2 separate regions of the Homo sapiens genome follow, and region 2 is linked to region 1. Evidence: fine-mapped expression QTL. A gene starts in region 1. The other region holds a variant in brackets. All regions are shown on one strand. Distances are from middle to middle. Region 1 holds the start of THAP12 (THAP domain containing 12). Region 2 has its middle 55 kb from the start of THAP12.

Region 1 (8,771 bases):
TCAATTACAGGAGGCAGATGTCCACTCAATACAAGGAAGAAACAACAGCCAAAGCGTCCAGAATCATCACGTGTCTTCTCACAAAGGGGAGGACTATCATTAGAGGTGTTTTAGCAAGGGCAAAGATGCCCATCTGTCAGGAATGCACAGGGCCTATAAAGGCCCATAAACATCTTTGTCTTCGAATGCTAAATTGTGTCTATGTTTTTTTTGTTTTTTTTTTTTTTTCAGGTAAGAGTCCTTATGCTAGATTCTCAAAAGGGATAATAACCCTAAAAATGATAAAAGTCACTATTATTGAGAAAATTCCAGTATTTCAAGTGAGATTTCACTAGATCTAAACACTTCTTTCAAATCTGAAACTGTAAACCCCTATAGACTATACTCCCCTTAAGGAGTGTAGTCAAAACAGGATTCACTACATATTAATACAAATGACCTGTGGTCCAGAACTGACTAGGGGTGCCCTCATTATGGAAGTGAAATAAACCTGTAAGAATGTCTTTGGGCTAAAATTTGGGTAAAAGGAAGATAACGCATAATGGGGCAAGGCCAAGTCAGACTAAGATGCTCCTCTCCTCTGTTCCCAACTGCTACTCCTCACTGTACTGAGCGAGTTCTTTCCCATGTCTCGGAACTTAAAACACTGGGAATGCCCCAGGACTCAATCCTCAGATCTGTTCTTTGCTCACTCCTTAGATAACCTTAACCCGTACCACGGTTTTAAATACCCTCTATAAACTGAGAACACCCATATTTACAATTTCCGGTTTGAAAGTCTCTGAATTTCAGACTTGTATATCCTATTCTCTCTTCAAGACATCTATTTTCTTTGAGGTGAAATTCTCATAACATAAAACTAACCATTTTAAAGTAAAAAACTAATGGCAATTAACACATTCATCATGTTCTGCAACCATCACCACTACCTAATTCTAAAACATTTTCATCACCTCAAAAGGAAACCTTGTAACCATTAATCAGTTGCTCCCCACTCTCCCTTTCGCCCAGCCCCAGGCAACCACTGATATGCTTTCTATCTCTATGGATTTACTTATTCTGGATATTTAATATAATAGAATCATACAACATATAAGCTTTTGTATCTGACTTCTTTCACTTAGCATAATGTTTCTGAGGTTCACCCATACTGTAGTATGTACTGGCACTTCATTCCTTTTCATGGCTAATATTTCATTGTATTGATATACATTTTGTTTATCCATTCAAGCACTGATAAACGTGGCTTGTTTCTACCTTTTGACTATTGCGAATAGTGCTGCTATGAATGTGTGTACATTTGGTTTTTTTGAATATCAGTTTGCAATTCTTTGGATATACGCCTAGGAATGGAATTGCTGGGACACACAGTAATTCTACATCTAACTGCCACTTGTGGTTTTGATTTGAACTTCTCTAATAACGAGTGATGCTCAGCATCTTTTCATGTGCTTTTTAGCCATTTATATCTTCTGTTTAAAGAAAGAAGTCCTTTGCCTATTTTAAAATTGGGTTGTCTTTTTGTTGCTGAATTGTAAGAGTTCTTTATATATTCTGGATACTGGACCCAGATCAAATGTATTATTTGCAAGTACCTTCTTCCATTCTTTTCACTTTCTTGGTAATGTTCTTTGATACACAAAAGTTTAATTTTGATGAAGTCCAATTAGTCTATTTTTCTTTTTACTGCATGTATTTTGGTGTCATATCTAAGAATGTGGTGCCAGCCAAGCACGGTGGCTTACACCTGTAATCCCAGCACTTTGGGAGGCCAAGGCGGGCAGATCACCTGAGATCAGGAGTTCGAGACCAGCCTGGCCAACATGGCGAAACCCCGTCTTGACTAAAAAAAAATACAAAAATTAGCCAGGCATGGTGGCGGATGCCTGCAATCCCAGCTACCTGGGAGGCTGAGTGAGTAGAATAGTTTGTGAACATCGGTGGCAGAGGTTGCAGTGAGCTGAGACTGTGCCACTGCACTGCAGCCTGGGCAACAGAGTGAGACTCTCAAAAAAAACAAAAAACAAACAAGAATGTGCTGCCAAATCTAAAGTCATGAAGATTTATCTGTATTTTTTTCCTAAAAGTTTAATGACATAGCTCTTATATTTAGGCCTTTGATCTCAATAAAAGTATAGGCCATTTGGAGTTCATTTCTGTATATGGTATGAAGAAAGACATCTATTCTTTTTTTTTTTTCATCTATTCTTTCTTTCTTGAGACGGAGTCTTGTTCTGTCACCCTGACTGGAGTGCAGTGGCACGATCTCGGCTCACTGCAACCTCTGCCTCCTGGGTTCAAGCGATTCTCACGTCTTGGCCTCCTGAGTAGCTGGACAGGCACGCACCACTGGGCTCAGCTAATTTTTGTATTTTTTAATAGAGACAGGGTTTCCCTATGTTGGCCAGGCTGGTCTCGAACTCCTGACCTCAAGTGATCCGCCTGCTTAGGCCTCCCAAAGTGCTGGGATTACAGGTGTGAGCCACCATGCCCGGCCTAGACATCTATTCTTGAATGTCTATCAGGTCTCTCAAACCCAAACTTCTAGTATTCCTCTACCAAACCTGCTCTTCCCAGTCTTCCCTATCTCAGCAAATGCTCACGTTAAAAATCTTGAAGTCGGCTGGGCGCGGTGGCTCAGAGCCTGTTCTAGCACTTTGGGAGACCGACACAGGAGGACTGCTTGAAGCCAGGAGTTCAAGACCAACCTGGCCAACATAGATTTTTAAAATCTTGAAGTCGTCCTTAAGTTCTCTTTTTCTTTTACAATCTACCTCCAAACCATTAGCAAATGATGTTGGCTTCACCTTCAAACCATATCTCAAATTTACCATCTCCTCCTCTATTAATCTGGATTATTACAACAGCCTTTTAACTGGTCTTCCGGCTTTCACCTTTGCCTCCCCACAATCTAATGAGCAGCCACTGATCCTGTTAAAATTTAAGTCTCTGCTCTAAACCCTTCAATGACTTCCTATTTCACTCATAATAAAAACCATAGTGCCTTCCAAGACCTACAAGGTCCTACCTAAAGAATTTGCCCCTACCATACACACACCTTTCTGGTCTCATCTCACCTCTCTCCCAGTCCCTCTCCCTGGACTCCTGGTTGCCCTGTCTTTGCCTTCTTTGGAATGCTGCTGCCCAAGGTATCTCCATGGCTGGCCCCTTCACCTGGTCTTTGCTCAAATTCACCTTCTTAGTGAGGCCTTCTCTAATCACTGTATTTAAAATAGCAATTGTGCGTCCCTTGATACTACTTATTCCCCTACCCTCTAACCTTTGTTTATTTTTCTCCACAGTATTTATCATCATCCGACACACTACGTATTTTACTTGTTTATTCCCCCCCCATTAGAATGTAATCTTCATGAAAGCAAGGACTTCGATTTGTTCATCTGTAACCCCCACTGCTCACAACAATGCCAACACAAGTAGACCTTCAATAATTAATTGAACTAATTAATAAATAACATAAATTATAGTCGCCCGTTGCTGCACCTGTTCCCTTACTGGACTGAGAGCTTTCTGCAAGCAGTGACACCCTTATTCACCCATGAACTCCCAGCACCTAACATTTGCGCTCGGCACATAGTAGGCATTGATTTTAAATGAATGAACCAACAAGACAGGCCTATGAAACATCTCAGCCTTTCAAACACAGTCCCTATGCTATCATTCCCTAAATATGTCAGTGTGTGGGGGTTATCCGAAGGAAGAGGTTCCAATACCAATTTCCACGCCCTCACGCGTACACCCTCTGTTATCCCTACAATACCCAAGCGAGAAAATGAGTAACGGTGACAGCCAGAAAATGAATCCTGAACCGTGCAATGACAAGTCCGAAGGAGAAAGCAGTTGCGATGAGATGAAAGAAGGTAGCGGGACTCAAAACAGAAACACTGTCCCGGGGGTGGTGGCAAGGAGAGGGAAAGGCCCCAGTGGCCACAACCATAGAGTCCTGCTCTCTTTTGACAGCTAAGGAAACTAACGCCCAGAGAGGAAAGCGACTCCCCCGAGGTCACACAGCAAGTGAGCCACGGCGAGAACCCACAGCATCCCGCGTCCGCGCGCCGCCCCAGCTCCCTCGCGTTTGGGGTGGTGTCCTCCGCGCAGAGCCCCCACCAGCGCACGTGCTCCGAGGTCCCCGGACGCCCGCCCGCCCACGGCTCGGGGCCGGCTCCCCATCTCGGTCCAACGCTGGGGTCGACGGCAGTGCGCTGCGCCCGCCTCCTGCGCCCCTCTCAGCCAGCCCGGGAGCCCGCCAGGGGCCGGCGGCTGGCAGCGCTCACCGCGAAGGTGGGCCCGGGCCGCCCGCTCTGCGCCCGCCGCTTACCTGGCAGGGTCCCGCGGGAACCTGAAGAAGGCCAAGTCGGACTGCGTGCTCTTCCGCGTGCAGTTGGGGGCAGCGCAGAAGTTCGGCATCGTCGCCCGCCCGCCGGCCGGCCCAGCCCTCCCCTCCCCGCCTCCTCAGGGCAGTCCGCCCGCCCGTCGGGGCCGGGGAGGGGAGCCAGGCCGGCCGGCCGGCTCGGCAGGGCCGACGCGCGGGGGAGGGGCGGGCGGGCTAGAAGCCGCGAGGGCCAGGAGGGGTGCCGCGGTCCGAGGCCGGGCTGGGGACGCGGCTCCACAGTGCTGTGAGCGGCCGGGAGGATTTACCGCCGCCGCCGCCGCTGGTGCACCTCCCGCCCGCCCGAGACGCTGCCGCCTCCTTCCCACAATGCACCCTGACGCCCGGGGGTGCCCTCTCTTCCCTCAGCCTTCCTCCCCCGCCCCTCCTTTCCGCCTTCTCAGCAGGCGGGCACGCGCAAGGAAGCGCGCCTGCCGGGGTGTGGCGAGGCGGAGGCGGGACCTGGCGCGCGCCGCCGCAGTGCGACTGCGCACAGTCTAATCCGCGGGGAGAGAGAATTGCGCATGCGCGCCTGTCTCCCGGGACGCTAGAGCAGGCGGTTCCTGGGCTGCTCCGGTAGGTTTGGCGTGCGCGGGTTTCTGCAGATCTAGGGCGAGCTTGCACGTTACATCACCGATGCATCTCTTCTTGCTTGCTTAATTTGCCACCACTTAGGCCTTTCTTGCAGAATTCGCCATATACTCCTTAAGGGCCGCGGAATCGGAGCGACCTTGGTGACTGGCAAACTCTCGGCAGATGTGCGTGCACTGGTTTGATGCAGACGTGGTTGTAGGCGATTTAATTTTTCCCAGCTTTGCAGCGACTGTTGGCTTCCCAGAACGGATCTCCCCAGCCTCGACTGGAAGCTGAGGGACAAAAATTCATAAAAGCAATTACTCTTTCCCGGCGAGGCTTCTAGAAGAGCAAGAAGAGCGATATGATTACACCTGCAGCCCTATAAAGATTGATCTGTCCGTCTTTCCCTTACAGTCGTGGCCTGTTAAACGTTCCTGTGTTGTTCAGTGCCAGAATGAGTGACCGCTATTTAGAACAAAGGATTAGTATCAAATTTTGCGTGAAATTGAACAAGTCTGCAAGTGAGACCCACCATCTTTTAAAAGAAGCTTATGGGGATGAAGTCATGTCAAGGGCCAGAGTTTTTGACTGGCACAAAAGGTTTAAAGAAGGACGGGAAGATGTTCGAGATGATGCCCGAAGTGGGCGTCCAGTCACCCACCGAACAGATGACAATATCCAGAAGGTCAAGGACTTGGTTTGTTCAAACAGGCAGTTAACCGTGAGGATGATGGCTGAAGAGTTAAATTTAGACAAAGAAACTGTTAGGCTCATTTTGAAAGAAAACTTGAACATGAGGAAGATTTCTGCAAAAGTTATTTCGGGTGTTTTGAAGGGTGAGCCTAAACCACGAAAACTTGACTTTCGGTCCGATCTTTCAAAGGAAACTAGGAAAAATAGCTCATGTTTGAGGAAAAAGGTAACAGGTTCTGAAACATGGAGTTATCTCCAGGGTGAAGCTGGTGGGGAAATGCCCCTGCCGGTATCCCATCCCAGAGTCCACTACTCTGCCAGTCAGCTTCTGCAGGCGTCATCTTCAACAAGCCTTCCCCCCAGGGTAGCTGAGAATTGGTTCACCCCATGGTGAGAGGAATGTGAGTTAGCTGAACCAGAACTAGGATGCTGCCTCACTGTTAGGCACCTTCTTTGGCTGCTCACGTATTTTTCAGTCTTCACCACTCCTCCCTATGTGCCATGGCCCTCCTCATTACTCTTTGCTGGACTCTTGGACCATTTTCCTTGCTGTTCTCCATAACTTTGAAAAACTTTTGGCTGTTCCCTTCTGGTATTTGCTTGTTCTTGATTTCTTTTGCTCAACAAGTTTGGATTTCTTCTCTGCCCAGACCTTAGCTTGTTGTGGCTGTCCTGTTCCTTTGTTCTCAACCTTCTGCCTCAGAGGATCATGCCAGTGAGAAGAGAGGAACAGGATCTCCTGGAATCTGTATCTCTGTGCCCAGGGAAGCATGCTTTTCTGGGAGGACCCCAAAAGAAGGCTTACAGTTTCAGCCTGCTTTGCAGTCAGGGCCTGAGGTATGGTACAGAAGGTAGTAGCATGCTGGTATTACTGAACAGTGCTGGGCCTAGGGGCTGATCTGGCCCAGATGACTCAGTAGGCACCCTTAGGAATCAGGGGTTGGCCACCAATACTGATCTTCTCACAGGCCTACACCTCACAGAAGAGCTGGGTTTGTTTCATTCTAGTCCTATGCTTTGGACCTCCACTCATTTGGGTATCACCCCTGTTGGAAGAGGAGGATCTGGTGCTAGAAAATATAAACCCGGGGACCCAGGCAAGGCTGTGTTGTGTGGGGAGGAAGACCAGGTGGCTCTCTAGTCCCTGAATTAAGGGAGCCTGCTGCCTATGTGCGGATTCCCACACAGCAGCCTGTTTTTAGTAACTAATGCCTATAGTTTTGAGAACTTGCTGTTTTTAGGACACTGCTGGGCATTGACAATGTGGAGGTTATGAACAAGATCTCCAAGGGCTGATGGGCTTCATGGATGAGATGGTTCTTGAACTGGATCCATGAGGATGGGTGAGACAGGGCTGTGAAATTAGGGAAAGCTTCCGGGGCAGGTGGAACAGCATGAGGCTTCCAACCTGCATCAGTAGAAAATGACACTGGCCAGGTGTGGTGAATCACGCCTGTAATCCCAGCACTTTGGGAGACTGAGGTGGGTGGATCACAAGGTCAAGAGATCGAGACCATCCTGGCCAACATGGTGAAACCCCGTCTCTACTAAAAATACAAAAATTAGCTGGGCGTGGTGGTGCACACCTGTAGTCCCAACTACTCAGGAGGCTGAGGCAGGAGAATCTGTTGAACCCGGAAGGCAGAGGTTGCAGTGAGTGGAGATTGCGCCACTGTACTCCAACCTGGCGACAGAGCTAGACTCTGTCCCAAAAAAAAAAAAAAGGAATTAGAAAATGATGACACTATTGGCTAAAATAACAAAGTTTAAAGAGGAAGATAATGGTGTTGCAGCAGATGAACAATTTGGGATAATTTGCTTTCTCTCCTAAGCCTCCAACTCTATGCCACTTGTTGTTAAATTGCTTCCCCTGAGTCTGTGAATAGGTTTGTAACAACCAATTTGATATCTGATTTTCCATTTGGACCCCGACAAGCAGTTTCTGCAAGTTCAAACTCTGTCTCTTCTCTTCCTGCCTCTGCCAGGATTTATGGAATGGAACTTTTCCCAAGTGGGTTCCAAGTAATACCACATAGACTGGAAACATTCAGGGGGCAGGGGTTTGGTAATAGCATTTCACAGAATTGGCCAGTCTTTGTTTTACTCAAGGATTTTTAGATATAACAGCTCCTCTTAAACAATATTGCTTGATAGTAGAGGCACAACACTCATTCATCACAGTTACTTTTAGTGCTGTTCTTTCACTTTCTCTACTCACCTCCAAAAATTACAAGTTCCTCATTAACACCTGTTTTTGTTTTGTTTTGTTTTTTGAGATGGAGTCTTGCTCTGCTGCCCAGGCTGGAGTGCAGTGGCACGATCTCAGCTCACTACAACCTCCGCCTCCCAGGTTCAAGTGTTTCTCCTGACTCAGCCTCCTGAGTAGCTGGGATTACAGGTGCATGCTGCTACACCCGGCTATTTTTTGTATTTTTAGTAGAGGCGGGGTTTCACCATGTTGGCCAGGCTGGTCTTGAACTTCTGACCTCAGGTGATCCACCCACCTCGGCGTCCCAAAGTGCTGGGATTACAGGCGTGAGCCACCACGCCGGGTCAACACCTGTTAGTTTTGAGACACCTTGAAAGCTAGACGTTGTCCCACAAAGAGAAGATACTGTGTAAGAAAACTCTTAAACCAAACAACAGCTTATAGACCTCCAGCTCCTTAACAGTTTCTAGACATTCCATTTCAGGACAATGAAGTCTTCCTACATCAGATGCGGCTCTAGGTTGCCCACAAGCACTTGGCACCAGGGACACTGCACTTTAGGAACAAAGTCCCCACCACTAGTTCTTGCAGCTTTGTTGCTGAACCTCATAGTAATCCTTGCTAAGGCCTACCCAGTGGTAATTGTTGCAGATTTATATGCTCCTGGTCCCAGGCCAGGATCCCACAACCATACCTACAGGAGTTGTTTCTAACCTGTTATTAAACAGAGGTCCTGAGACAACTTACTTCTGGATTTTATTCCAGTCCTATGAACAGGGCTGGTATGTCCCTGCCAGTGATGCTGGACCAAGACCCATGGTGGAGTGTAGAGTACCAGAAGCTATGTTGGTCCAGACATGGTTTAGACACAGCAACCAGAAGCAGGTAATTAGGAGTGTGAATTCA
Region 2 (8,771 bases), 55 kb before region 1:
AGACATTCCCACTCCCGTCACCTGGGTGCAGGCACTGTGACTTCTGCCTACAGCCTCCTCACCCATCCCCTGCCACTCCCCCAGTCCCCCCCCGCCCCCCCCCGACACCAGCCAGAGTGGCCTTCCCGGAAAGCAAATGACTGGCCAGTCAGGGTCCTGCTTACAATCCCTCAGAGTCGCCCATCCTCCAGCATGGTTTGCCAAGGACCTGCTCGGGACTGGCTCTCCCCACTCTCTCCAGCCCCATCTTGAGCCACTACACCTTGAATTCAGCGTTTCAACAACACACAGTATTTGGAATTTCTCCAACTGCCCCCCTGTTGGTCTTTGCATATTCTGTTCCCTCTGTCCATCATATCCGTTCATCTTTCAGAGCTTAGCTGAAATCCCTCCAGGACGCCTTCCCTGAGCCCCGGATTGAGTGGGGTGCCCTCCCCCAGCTCCCACCCTGGGTCTGTGTCTGCCTGCCCTGCCCATGCCCGCCCCACAAGGCCCACGCTTGCGCCCTCGGGCTGCGCAGGGCGAGGGTTTGGGGGCGCGGTACTGACGGGTGTCCAGGCCTCTCCTCGAAGGGTTCCGCGCGCAGAAAGGTGGGCCGGGGCCAGAAGACGCGCTGGAAAGGCGTTTTCTGCCCCCTCCGGGCCTCGGGAATATTTGTGGGCTGCCGGCGGGGCAGGCGGGGTGGGGGAGGCTGCCCGGCGGGCGGGAAGCCCCGCGCACTCGGGTCCCCTGCGGTCCCCGGCGGGGGTCGGCGCGTGCGGAAAGCGGCCCGAGCCCCCAACCTCGGCCCGTCCGCAACCGAAGAGGAGGCGACCGCAGCCTGGAAAAGAAGAGCCCCCAGCTGTTTCCTTCCACCCGGGCGGGCGGGACGGAGAAGGGAGGGAGCCTGGGAGAGACGCAGGTGTGGCGCTCGCCTGTGCTGGCGGGGTGGCAGCCGGGGCGTGGCACCCTCGGAGTCTCGACTCTGCCCACTTCTCAGGCAGAAAACTGAGGTGGTCCCATGGCCAGAGCTAAGAAAGGCAGTGCTGATTCCTGGGCCCCCGCTGCTCACAGCGTCCTTCAGCATCCCAGTAGGCCGAGGGCATCTCACTCTTAGGTGACCACAAGAATCACGGGGACAGTTGTTAAAATGCAGATTTCAAGGCCCCATCTCCCAGAGACGCAGTAGGTCTGAGATGGGACCCAGAAATCAGCTCTTTAAAACAAGGAAATAGTCCACATGTTGTGAAGCACTGGTGAAGAGATGCTTTGGAATAGGAAGCTTCCCCCTCGGCCTAGTTACAGCAGAGAGCAGAGAGCGAGGACTCGGAAGGGAGGGACTTGGACCCTGAAGCCCAGGCTTTCCTGCTGGGTGACTAACTTCTCTGTGTCTTGATTTTATCTTGCCTAAAGTGGAGATAACATTCAGCCCACAAGGTTCTGTAAAATCAAAGAGATGTGAGTAAAAGTGCTTTACTAACTTCACCACCACCATCATTATTATTCACTGTCACCGCCCATCCCCTAGGCAAGGAAAGAAGCCATCCTGAACCTGTGGGGTGATGAGCTCAGATGCTACCACCTCTGCAAAGGCAGCCCTGGTCATTTGGGAGGAAGCCCTCTTTCCTCTGAACTGAACACCACTCCTTCACCCCCATTTGGTGCTCCTTGTACGTGCCCAGGGCTGACTGCAGTACCATGTGCCATTTTTTCACCAAAATATGAGCTCTACCTTTGGGGCTCCTCAAAGTCAGCAATTATGTCAGAAGGGCTGCATGGTAGAGACCTGAGTTTAAGTCTCAGGTCTGTCATTTACTGAGAGATCTTGAAACCGCCTTTGTAAAATTATGACTGAGACAGTGAAAGAGATCTAACTTAACTGACTCCATTTTGCTTCTAACCTCCAAGCTGTCCTTGTTCATTCCTAAGCATAGATTGAACTATCTTTGGGAGAAATTTAGTTTATAGTTTATTGTTTAAACAAAGATGGTAACAGACCTTTCCCAAAGCAGACCTCCTTCTTGCCTGGGGACTAGATTGCTTTGGCAGGTCTAACATTAGCCACAAGATAAGGAATTATATGCAGCTGGAGGATACAAGATTCTGACCCTCTCTAACCTGCTCTAAGATCAGTGCTTGAGATGTTTCACAGGCCCTGCACTTGATGGATCAGCTGGCACCACCCAGATCAATAAACTGGCTCATCTGATCTTGTGGCCCCCACCCAGGAACTGACTCAGCGCAAGAAGACAGCTTCCACTCCCTGTGATTTCATCTCTGACCAATCAGCACTCCTGGCACACTGTCTTCCCCCCACCCACCAAGTTATCCTTCAAAACTCTGCTCCCCAATGCCTGGGGAGACTGATTTGAGTAATAATAAAACTCTGGTCTCCCGCACAGCCAGCTCTGCATGAATTACTCTTTCTCTATTGCAATTCCCCTGTCTTGAAGAATCGGCTCTGTCCAGGCAGTGGGCAAGGTGAACCCCTTGGACTGTTACAATCTCAGTAAATGTAAACTGTCAGTTTACTGAGATCTCTCAGTAAACTGCCCCCGTTATTCTTGGGGCCACCAAAGAGTGAGCTGCCCTTGGCCTACTGTGATGCCAAAGGGCGCCGTGAGCAGCGGGGGCCCAGGAATCAGCACCGCCTTTCTTAGCTCTGGCCATGGGACCACCTCAGTTTTCCACCTGTGAAGTGGTCAGGAAGGCTGTGGGATCTTGATCAGTGCATCCACCTCTCCAAAAGTCTATCACTTTAGAGTGTAAAGGTTTAAATGGAATAATGTCTATAAAGTACTGTAATGTCTATCACTCAGTTGGCCTAACTTGAATAAAACAAATACAAGCTGGGCAGTCTGAGGAAGGCATCGCAAGGAGTGGCTTTTGACCTGGGCTTTTAGAGCCAGGAGTCTTAATAGGTAAAGAACTGGTGGGGAAGGGCCCCTCTAGGCCCTTTTCCATATTCTGGTTACAGTCTCTGTTAATGTTTATAACTTTAAACAGAGACTTCCTGCTCTGAAATGTGTTGTTACTGCCCATTTAAAAATTGAACTAGAATAAAGATAGCAAGCGGAACTCGCACTATGGTCTTCCCTGAAACCAACTAAAACAACACTAAAGGGATTTATCATAATATTGGAAACCAGACACAGCCAACAAAGAATGGTAATTGATTAAATCCTAAAAGGCAATAAAGAAAGTTGAAAATCAGCCCAATTTACACTGTTAAACCCCCAAATGGTTCAGGAGTTGGTTGTACCAGGTACCTCTGGAAAGTGGGTGGGTCGGAGGTGGGCGGGGTGGAGGCTAAAAACAGAAAGATTGCTTGGAAAACAATCAGACTTCCAGATACTCTCTCTCCTGGCAAAATACTAATACTCCAGACAGGATACACAGAATGCTTCAGGCAGGAGATTGGAGGAGCTTTTCTTTTGACTAGCACAAAATAAAAGACATGGAATGGCCCAATCATGTGCACAGCCCCAATCATGTTCAGAGGGTATCAAATCTGTTTTAGTGTCTCATTCTTAAATATGAGCAGACAGCAAAGGATGAGTAAGCATTTGAGAAAAGCCTCTAATTAAAAAAGAAGTCAAAAGAATAGGGGGAAACAACAAAGGAACTTAGAAGCTGGCAACT[T/A]TGCAAAAAGCTGAAAACTTAAAACTATAATTAACATCCTAAGAAATAAGATATTGCTGCAAAATGGGGAAATGTCTCCAAAATTCTGAAGAAAGTTATATTTCCATCCCAGAAAGTTATATTTCCACCCAGCCAACTGATGATCAAGGGTGAAGAGAGAATACATTTCTAGTCATGTGAATTATCTTTGCATGTTTCCTGAGGAAGCTTCTGGAGGATGTGCTTCAACAGAAGTGAGGGAGTTAACCAAGAAAGAGGAAAACATGGCATCCAAGGAAAAGAAAATGTAACAAAGGATAGGGGCAAAGGAATCCCCAGGCCATTCTATTCTATTGTGCAATAGAAGACAATTCATCCTAATGGGACATGGTGGAAGACTCTGGGAGGGACTTCTTCAGGAAGATGAAATCAGTAGACTAGCCAATGCATTTAAACATATTGAAAGGAGATATGCATAACCACAATTGTTATGCAGGGAAGGAAAAATAATTATAGAATACTACACGGCCCAGTTGTCAATAGCATTTACGTAGCCTAATAATGAAAACATGAATACTGTTCCAATCAAACTTGTGATACTAGGTGGAAGTAGGGAGACACAAAATGTACATGTGAGTGTGGAGAAAGTAAGGGGAAAGAGAGAGAGAAAGAGAAAGAAACTGAAAAATCAAGAAGTAGTAGTATAAGCAAATAATTTAGAGTCAAAAGCAGTGACACAGAGAGACTGCTCAATAAAATATTTGCTGAATGCATGAATGGTCAACACCTAGTGAGGGCCAGGCACATATTTATTGAGCATAATAGTACTTAAGACTTACTGAACAGAAAGGGTCTTCTTCCTTAGAATCACCTTGGTCTGTGTTTGGGTACAAAGCAAGTCCTTGACAAATGTGCATTGCCTTGGTTGAGCGGATGTGGCCTCCTGGATTCCCAGCCTGTTGTGTGATTTTGAACAACTTTCATAGCCTTTCACAAAGGTGCCAGGGTTTCTCCATTATCAATAGGGAAAAAAACGGTCAGAGGATGCTTCCTGGGTCTCAGAGCTGTGACTTGAGAATTGAGTGGGGGAGAGGGGATGGCAATGGTGATGCACAACATGCACCTGAGGATTCCTAGGTGTCCGGAAGACCTGCCCCTGGGGTGGGTGGGTGGAAGGGAAAAGTAATGGCTGATGAAAAGAGGCTGCGAGAGAGGCCTGAATGGGAGGAATGATTCATCCTCCAGCATCTCCCATCCAAAGCCACTCCTCCTCACTGCCCCTTGGCTCTGGCATCAAGCAGCCAACTCTGCTGAATCTGGAGGGGATGTTTTGGCCGGATTCTTCCTATCTCTTGAGATGGGGTGAAGTGGGCCCCTGGCCCACGTCTGCTTCCCTCTGGTTGGTGTGTCACAGAAGATAATGGCTCCAAGGGCTCCAGCAGCACTGCGTGGAACATTATTAGATCGGCTAGCCCAGAACATCTCCAAATTCTAGATTTTACCAACTGGTAAAATTTAAATGAAGAGGAGGTGACCAGCGTAAAGTTACCAGCTTTTTTAGTTTGCTAAAAAAACCAAAACAAACAAACAAAACAAAACAAACAAACAAAAAACATTAGAAAAAGAACTATCATGATGTTCTGTGGTTCCATGGTGTGTTCACTTAGTGGTAAGGCATCAAGCTGTACATTTAGGAGTCTGATTATTCTGAATACATATTAGACTTTGTGAAAAGTTTACTCGAAAAATATCATGTACTAGGCTGGGCGTGGTGGCTTACCCCTGTAATCCCAGCACTTTGGGAGGCCAAGGTGGGCAGATCAGCCAGAAGTTCAAGGTCAGGAGTTTGAGACCAGCCTGGCCATCTTTACTAAAACTACAAAAATTAGCCAGGCATGATGGTAGGTGCCTGTAATCCCAGCTACTCAGGAGGCTGAGGCCAGAGAATTGCTTGAGCCCAGGAGGCAGAAGTTGCAGTGAGCCGAGATCGCACCACTGCACTCCAGCCTGGGAGACAGAGCAAGACTCCATCCTCCATCTCAAAAAATTTTAAAAAAAGAAAAAAAGAAAAACTGTCGTGTACTATTGCACCACTACTTCATCTAAAATAAATTTTTGATGCCCAAAATGGGAAAAGCGTAATCTCAATAGAGTCCAGTTTGTCCTTATGAAAAGGCAGTGAACAGTGAATGGTAGGTGAAATTACAATAGTATGCTTTACATGTGTGATAGTAACATTCTAGGGGAGAAAGCCAAAAGTGTCATTTCACAATATCACTCACACATTGGTTTTTGTCAATTGAGGGATTCAGATGTGAAGTGGAATCCTATATCTAGCTTGTTCTTAAGCTTTATCATAGTTGTTGAGAAAAATCCAGTTTCACTCGGTTATCTTAAGGGAAGTGGAAGCCACACCCAGTGTAGTTCCACTGAATTTCTAATGTTCTCTGACTTCTGAGAGAGGCTGAGAACAAAGACAGCAGCTGCCAGCCCCTGCTCTCCCTACCACTGGAAAGGCCAGAGGCCAGGTGAGGGGGACTCACAGCCATTGGGCACCCTGATCACCAGGCACAGAATAGTCAGATCTTTATTTGAAAGGGATGCTATAGACCAAGACGACCCTGGCCAGTCCATCTGTAAGCACTTAGGGACCTTCTGTCAGTCTCCCTTTTATGAGAACTGAGGTCCGGAGTGAGGAGGTGATACATTCAAAGACACACAGCAAGTTAGTGAAGAGCTGGAGCTAGAACCTGGCCTGCCAGCCCTGTGTTCTCCCCATGCACCCTGGCTCAGGAGCTCCTGGTGGCCACCCTCCTTGACCTTGAAAACTGCTCACTGCCATGTTGGAGGTAAACTCTTCAGAGCTCCGGCTCTGGTGGCCAGAGCTGGGCTGGTGCTGGGCTGCAGGGAATCGAGTTACCTAGTTGGAGAGGATCCCTCAGGAGCCAGCCTCTCTCCAGTTGGCAAGAGGACAACTTGGCGAGGCTGGGCTCATAGAAGATGCCAGAGCTGCTACAATGGAGGGCTTCAACCATCCAACACCTCCTTCAGGGCTGCTGTCACCAAACCCAAGCTGACACCCTGGCTCTGGGCAGAGGCTGGCGGGTGTGGGTGGAGGAGGGAAGGTTGTTAGGAAGGCTCTGCCAGGCGGAGGGAGGGGGTTGGCTTCTGCAAAATGGGCCTCTTTCCCGCCTGGTGGGCTTTGCTCACTCTTGCCTCCTCGCTGCTTCTCTCTCCTCATGGACACGCCCAGTTTCCTCCGATTGCACAAAGCCTCTTTGATGAATGATGCCACAAAGAGGCTGCTTCAGGGGACCCAGGGTTTGGCCCACTCTTTGGGCCTTCCCACCCAATCTGTGAAATGGCCAATTGTGAGTATATGAATATACTCAGCTCTGACAGGGAACCTTTCAGAGGAGCACCATGGTTAAGGAGCTCCCAAATGAGGGCATGGGCCCATAGCAGCCCAGGTGGCCCCATTCCTACCCTGAGTGGAGGGGTAGGGACCCTTAATTTCTGTAACACAAGTCAGAGACACTCAAAGCAGGAAGAAGTCTGGTCAACCATATGTTTCAGGTGCCTTGAAAGTCTCAATATTTGTTGAATGGGCGAATGAATAAAGTTCAGCTTAAGACTTTTTTTTTTTTTTGAGACAGAGTCTCACTCTGTCACCCAGACTGGAGTGCAGTGGCGCGATCTCGGCTCGCTGCAACCTCCACCTCCTGGGTTTAAGCGATTCTCCTGCCTCAACCTCCAGAGTAGCTGGGACTATAGGCACACGCCACCATGCCCTGCTAATTTTTGTATTTTTGGTAGAGACGGGGGTTTCACCATGTTGGCCAGGCTGGTCTCGAACTCCTGACCTCAGGTGATCCACCTGCCTCAGCCTCCCAAAGTGCTGGGATTACAGGTGTGAGCCACCATGCCTGGCCAAGACTATTTTAAAGAAAGATGCCACTGCTGAACAGTAAAATCAAAGACCTCATTTAACAGCCCTCATCTGACAGAAGAGAAACATGCCCGGTGAAGGGCCCTTCTTGCTGACATTTCCAAGTAACACAAGGGACCAGGCAGGCGTCCCAAGCCCAGGTGTCTGATGGCTGCTCTTCTGCTGAGTGAGAGTCCCCCAGGACCCCGCTCCAGGGCCTGGGCTCACTACTCCATAAGCAGCCCCACTGCTTGCCGGCAGATCTGCAGCTTCCGCAGACACTTCCAGCTTTCAGTTCCTTGAACATTCCTGTCATTCCTTGGGCAAACCCACTCTACTCCACATTTCTTTGAACTTCCCCGACTTCCCTGACCCTCTGCGACTAGCTGTGTGACCCTGGGCAAGTTGCTCAACTTCTGCAAGCTTGAGCCTCCACATCATGAAAGCGAGAGAAGCATTACTGACCCCGAAGGGCTGCTGTGAGGCCCACAGCTCCAGCTGAGAAAGTGCATGATAAAGTCAACATGATGGGACCTTCACTCTGTGCCAGACATGTGCAAGACAGGGTTATGTCCTGCACAAAGCAGTGTAGGGGTTAAGCACAGATTAGATTCACAGGTGGGGCCAACCTGAGTTAGAATTCTAGCCCTACCACTGACTCACTGTGTAAACCTGGGCGAGTCCCCTTAGCCTTTCTAGGACTCTCTTTTCTTGTCTGTAAAATGGAGACAATAATACCTACTGTTGCTTAAAGGATGAAAAGGGAACCCCATAAACGAAGTGCCCTGCCCAATGCCCAGCATACAGCAGGTGCTCAGTGAAGGGCCACCTCCACGCACCTCCTTCTCCATGAAGTCCCCAGCAGGCTGGTCCTGCAGGTCCCCCAGTGATCTAGAGTCCCAAGTGTGAGCACTGGCCCCTGCTGCTTTGTAAGTCCTCTGCCCAAAGCTGTGGAGTCCTACTTGGGTCTAACTGGGAACACCAAAGTAAAGAGGAATGAGGGGGCCCCAGGATGGAGAGTTTGGAGTGGGGCTGCTGTGTAGGATGGCAGCCAGCAGGCCTGGCCCTGAACCCCAGGGCCACCACCTTTTTAAATCAGATCCTTCCCTCCAAGCAAGCAAACAATCTGGCTCTGGCGGAGGCCCTGGTCAAGCACAGCAGAACCTTTGTGAGCTCTTGACTCTCCCCCTGCCTCCCCACTTCATCCTTGTCATCGCCTGCAGGGAGCTCTGGGGGTGGTGCT

What was found. PIP is the estimated chance that this variant, and not a neighbour inherited with it, causes the effect.
Region 2: its variant is fine-mapped to the expression of THAP12 in whole blood (INTERVAL, PIP 0.94).

What each region holds. Positions count from the first base shown.
Region 1 is chr11:76,376,412-76,385,182 of GRCh38, forward strand. THAP12 (THAP domain containing 12) reads right to left here and starts at 4,721. Exons shown (of 5, transcript NM_004705.4): 1 at 4,337-4,721. The coding sequence starts at 4,425. GVQW3 (GVQW motif containing 3) reads left to right here and starts at 4,912. Exons shown (of 2, transcript NM_001347885.2): 1 at 4,912-5,882. The coding sequence starts at 5,418. RefSeq lists an enhancer at 3,926-4,427 and a silencer at 4,070-4,999.
Region 2 is chr11:76,321,388-76,330,158 of GRCh38, forward strand. No RefSeq gene overlaps it. Among named protein-coding and RNA genes, the nearest start is that of THAP12, 55 kb to the right of the region's middle. The variant T/A (reference allele first, on the strand shown) is at 3,622.